Regions from separate parts of the Homo sapiens genome. Here region 2 is linked to region 1. Evidence: fine-mapped expression QTL. A gene starts in region 1. The other region holds a variant in brackets. All regions are shown on one strand. Distances are between the middles of the regions.

Region 1 (2,905 bases):
TGCTCAAAATTCACCTTATTAGAAAACCCTTTCTGAACCACTCGATATATTCAATTAAATACCCATTCCTCCTCTTTCTCCTTTTCCTGCTTTAGTGATCTCTGAACCATTTATTGCCACCCAACATACTATACATGAACCTATTTCTCTGTCTTTAGCCATTGGTATATATATGTTCTTCAAGAGCAGGGTTTCGGTTGCTCTGTTTACTACTACTTCCCAGCCTAAAAACACTAGCCTAAACAGCCTAAAGTAGACGTCCAGTGAATATTGGTTGAATGAATTCACCTGTCTATTCCTGCCCTAACAGTGGGGATAAGGCCACCCTTGCAGGGTTGAGAGGATTAACTGAGACAGCCTCTGACAATGCCCAATGAACACTCAACAAATATTAGCAGAAGTAGGAAAACAACCTATCTTTTGGACTAAATGCTCCGAGAAGGGAGGTGACCTTTATTTCCCTCATGAATTTTATAACCCTTCCAGTTCCAAAAAGGATGACAGGCAGTGCAGGCAGACATCATTCTGTTCGGCTGAAGTTCAATGAATGGCATTGCTGCTCTCAACCTCTTTTGGGTACTATCCCGCCTAAGAAAAGCGGGGTGGGAGAATGGAAATATATTTGCATTTTCATGCATATTAAGTCTCCCACAAAGATGGCTCTTTGTTTTCTTACGGTTTGCAAGCTCCTGAGGACTAGAAATCGGTGAAGGGGGAGGGGAGAGCGAGTGTTCTGAGATTGTTCCTCCCATCCCCTCCCAAAGCTAATCTCGTTCTAGCACTGCACTGCTTTTCCAAACTAGCTGTTGTATGCAGTCCCATTCATCCCTTCTCTCCAGAACTTGACACCTGTGGCTCCTGCAAGTGGAAGGCCCGGGAATGGGAATGAAGCGGGGTGGTGGGCAGGGAAGCGTTATGCTCGGAGAGCCCTTAAAATTCTCCTGGAGGTCGGCAGCGGCGCCCGCCTGTAGCCTCCGGCCTAGAGGCTTCGCCGCCCCTCGGACTAGAACACAGCCCGGCCGTTGTGCTTGCCTCCCCTTCCCAGGCTGTGAGACGGCGGCCGCAACCACCCAGCGCCTCTGGGGATCCGGCCTCTGGTGCTGGGCCCGGGAGAGGGGGCGCTTGGGCACCGGAAGATCCGGAGCGTGCGGGGCGTGGATCGAAGTCTCCAGACCCTGGGCGGGGGAAAGGGGAAGGGAGGGGGAAATCGAGGAGGCCTGAGCTTCTAAACCATGGTGGGGGAGGTGCAAGAGCGCGCCCTGGACCCAGATCCGAGAGGGAAACCTGGGCCCCAAGGCTGAAGGGGGTGAGAAGGTGCCCGGGTCCCGGACCCCGACTGGGGAGGGACGGCCCCAGCCCCGGCCCCGCACCGTGACGCGGAAGTGGAATCCCCTCCATCCTCACCTCTGAGCATCGGCTCGGGCCGCGGAATTACGGCCACCACCATGGCCTCCTCCTCGTCCTCCCCTTCCTCGCATTTCAGCGTCACCTCGAAGCAGTCGAGTGCGGCGCCCTCGGCCTTTAGGGCCATGGTGCGGCCGTGGGCGATAGCAGTGGCCGGAGGACTGGCGCGCAGGCTTCGGCGCGCAGCCGGCAACCGCCTCCCGCCTCCTGGCCGGAATAGCGCCGGGCCCGCCGCCCGCCCCGCGCAGCCCCCTCCCCGCCGCCCGCCCGCCGCTCGCCGGCCGGGCCTGCGACCGGCGCGTCCGGGCCTCCCCGAGACCTCGGCGCGTCGGGAGCCCGGGCGGGGAGGGCTCAATCCGGGGCCCCTGCCCCCCGCCGCTCCCTTTTATGGAGGCTCATTGTCGGCGCCCGCCCGGCCGGCCAGCCGCGGACCCGCCCCCGATGCCGCGCGGCCAATCGCGCGTGGCCCCGCCCCGGGCACGCGGCCCCGTTAGAAACCCTGGACCCGGGAGGCGGCGGGAAGGGCCGAGGGGACCCGGGGCCACCCGGTGCGCAGAGGCAGAGGGGCCCCCAAAACCCGCAACGCGGGCCCCTCAGTCTGCGGGCCAAGCCCGGGGTTTCCCTCCATTAAGAAGTCAGTTGGGCGTTTCTGCTGGCGTGGAGAGCGCTACCAGGTGCCCCCGGATTTTGATCGGGAGTCGCTTTTGCCTTTCCGTGGACAAGCCTTCCTCCGCCAGCAGATGCCCCGGGCAGGAAGAGAAGCGGTGGGTGAGTGGAAAGGGCCTTGGTATGGAAACGCAGAGACCGAATTCCTTCTCATCTGCCAGCTCCGTGGCCGTGGGCACATTATCTGTTTTCTTAGTCCGGCTCATCGTTTCTTTCAAAAACCATTTTGGACCCTTCTGGGAAGGCAAAGAAGAGAAGCAGAGTGGACTGTGAGCGGACATAAACCACCCTGATGGGTATGATTTCCATTTTTGGCACGGGAGTCCGGAGATTTTGTGACCCTCTCCAAGGACACACAGCAATCCCTTGAGAGCCCCAAGACCAGAGTCCAGTTGCCATGACATTGCTGCCCTATAACCACACTCTGGGTGAGCTTTTACTTCTGTGACATGGAATGTGCATCTCCCTCTTCTATAGCAACCCTCATGAGATTTCAGCTCAGAAAATGCAAAATGTCTGACACTGAAAATCCATCTTCGAATGTCGTTATATCAGACCAGACACAGTAGTATTCAGAATCGCGTAGTAGGATGGGGGTGTGAGAAGAGGTGTGAACTAGTCTATATGGATTGCAGTCAATTTTTTAATTTTTTTTTTTTTGAGACAGAGTCTCGCTCTGTCACCAGGCTGGAGTGCAGTGGCGCTATCTCGGCTCACCACAACCTCCGCCTCCCAGGTTCAAGCTATTCTCCCGCCTCAGCCTCCTGGGTAGCTGGGACTACAGGCACGTGCCACCATGCCCGGCTAATTTTTGTATTTTTAGTAGAGACGGGGT
Region 2 (2,905 bases), 180 kb after region 1:
CACTTTTTCTCCTTTTTCATCATGCTGAGGTCTGTTAATTTTTTTTTAGCACATTTTGCAGTAGTGTGGCGACCTTTTCTAGTTCACTTGTTTGTATTCATGGTGGTACAGTTAAAACGAAATGGCCTCTCCTCACTGGGCCTAGTCTTTTCACCAAACACACTTTGGGAAGCACAGTTTATTATACGTGGTTGAAACATACCCACCATGTTAGACAAGCAAGTTCTTGTCATCTGTTGTTTATTTTTTTTATTTTTATATAATTTCTAATTTATTATTTTTTTGAGACAAGAGTCTCACTCTTGCCAAGGCTGGAGTGCAGTGGCACAATCTTGGCTCACCGCAACCTCCACCTCCTGGGTTCAAGTGATTCTTATACCTCAGCCTCCCGAGTAGCTGGGATTATAGGCATGTACCACCATGCCTGGCTAATTTTTGTATTTTTTAATAGAGATCGGTTTAGCCATGTTGCCCAGGCTGGTCTCCAACTCCTGGACTCAAGCAATCCGACCGTCTTGGCCTCCCAAAGTGCTGGGATTATAGGGGTGAGCCACCATGCCTGGCTATAATTTTTTTAATTAAAAGAAAAAAATAGGGATGTGGTCTTGCTGTGTCGCCCAGGCTGGTCTCAAACTTGGCTCAAGCGATGTGCCTGCCTCAGCTTCCCGAAGTGCTAAGATTACAGGTGTAAGCCACTGTGCCTGACCTGTTATTTACTTTAGTGGAACATGTCCTGACACACCTGTTTACTATTCACTAATCAGGTTTTTAATTTGCAACTAGAATGTCATTTGGTTAAAACATAATTTTTGACTTTCATATGTTGAACATAAGGGGATTTATTGCCAAGTGTTGATTTATTTTGTAGCAGAAAATTTTCATAAAGGGAGCTAGAGCCTGGGATTGACATTGCAAATAATTTTTTCCTTTTTTTTTTTGAGGTGGAATCTTGCTCTGTTGCCCAGGCTGGAGTGCAGTGGCACAATCTCGGCTCACTGCAAGCTCCACCTCCTGGGTTCACGCCATTCTCCTGCCTCAGCCTCCCGAGTAGCTGGGACTGCAGGCGCCTGCCACCACGCCCGGCTAATTTCTTTGTATTTTTAGTAGAGACAGGGTTTCACCGTGTTAGCCAGGATGATCTCGATCTCCTGACCTCGTGATCTGCCCGCCTCAGCCTCCCAAAGTGCTGGGATTACAGGCGTGAGTCACCGCGCCCAGCCCCCTTTTTTTTCTTCTTCTT[CTTT/T]TTTTTTTTTTTTTTTAAATAGAAACAGGATCTAGCTGTGTTGAGCAGGCTGGTGTTGAATTCTTGGACTCAAGTGATCCTCCCACCTCAGCCTCTCAAAGTGCTGGGATTACAGGCGTAAGCCACCACACCCGGCTTTTTCCTTTTTTTTTTTTTTTTTTTTGTTTGAGACAGAGTCTTGCTCTATTGCTCAGGCTGGAGTGCAGTGGCGTGATCTCGGCTCACTGCAACCTCTACCTCCTGGGTTCAAGTAGTTCTCCTGCCTCAGCCTCCTGAGTAGCTGGGACTACAGGCGCACATCACCACGCCTGGCTAATTTTTTTGTGTTTTTGGTAGAGATGGGGTTTCAACATGTTGGCCAGGCTGGTCTTGAACTCCTGACCTTATGATCCGCCAGCCTCGGCCTCCCAAAGTGCCAAAGTGCTGGGATTACAGGCGTGAGCCACCACGCCCAACCTTTCCTTCTTCTTTTTTTTTTTTTTTTGACTCACATCTATTTCTTAAAGTTGGAGCAATGGAGCCAGGTGTGGTGGCTTACTCCTGTAATCCCAGCACTTTGGGAGGCTGAGGTGGGCAGATCACTTGAGCCTGGGAGTTCAACATCAGCTTGGGCAATATAGGGAGACTCTAGCTCTGCAAAACAAAAACTTAAAAAGTTAGCCAAGCGTGGTGGCACGCACTGGCAGGAGGATGGCTTGCATTCAGGAGGCGAAGGTTGTAGTGTGCTGAGATTACCACTGAACTCCAGCCTGGGTGACAGAGTGAGGCTCTGTCTTAAAAAAAAAGAAAAATTTAAACAATTAAAAAATAAATTGATGCAATGGAAATAATATTTTCCTTGAATTTTGGAGATTTAATTTTTGCTAAAGATTCTTATGTATAAGAATACATATTTCTATGTATATGAACTTCTACCTTTTTTTGGTAGAAAATTTGGCAGAAAAAGTGTATTCTATTTCATCAGTTGAACTATATGGAAATCTAGAAAAATAGAAGGTTAATAAAAAAGGAAGAATGGGGAATAGAGAAGATTTTTGTTAGGTTATTTGTGGAGGAATGTTAAAAGAGGAAGGATTTACAGTTCACGTTTTTCTCTCTTAAAAGGCCACTGCTGAAGCCAACAACTTAGCAGCTGCAGCCTCTGCCAAGGACATTTATTATAACAACATGGAAGAGGTACGTGGGACATACGCCTTATTCTGAAATATCTATAATCTGGGCATTGTTGCTGACTTCAAAAGCCCAACTTGATCCTACTTAATGTATCTTTAAGTGATGAGGCAATAAACTTATATTCAGGTTGTCCTGGTAACGGGGGCCTTCTAATTATTACCATTTCTTTGTTTGTTTGTTTGTTCTTGTTTTGTTTTGTTTTGTTTTGAATAGCAAATAGTTTATTGGTAAGTACATAGTTTCAATGGGAGTAATAAATTCACATGAGCAGGAGACAATAATCAAGTCAAAAGAATAAATGCTTACTAATCATCAGAAAATCTGTGGCCATTAAGGCTGGCACATAAAAATCCAAAATCACTCAGAGGCCGAATCTTAAAAGAAGATTCGTCCTCTTATTAGTTCATATGGAATAGGTCCATAGTAACTGGAATCTGTAGAATTCTGTAGATTTATCACCTTCTAACCAAACATGACCCACTGGGACAT

Evidence for each region.
Region 2: its variant is fine-mapped to the expression of SPINDOC in whole blood (INTERVAL, PIP above 0.99).

Annotation. Positions count from the first base shown.
Region 1 is chr11:63,812,313-63,815,217 of GRCh38, reverse strand. It overlaps SPINDOC (spindlin interactor and repressor of chromatin binding), which reads right to left and starts at 1,762. Exons shown (of 6, transcript NM_138471.3): 1 at 1,405-1,762. The coding sequence starts at 1,531. RefSeq lists a silencer at 1,657-2,126.
Region 2 is chr11:63,632,540-63,635,444 of GRCh38, reverse strand. It overlaps ATL3 (atlastin GTPase 3), which reads left to right. Exons shown (of 13, transcript NM_015459.5): 11 at 2,348-2,419. The region is part of intron 1 of LNCROPM (lncRNA regulator of PLAAT3 mediated phospholipid metabolism); the gene reads right to left. It also overlaps the pseudogene IMMP1LP1. Among named protein-coding and RNA genes, the nearest start is that of LNCROPM, 18 kb to the right of the region's middle. The variant CTTT/T (reference allele first, on the strand shown) is at 1,241.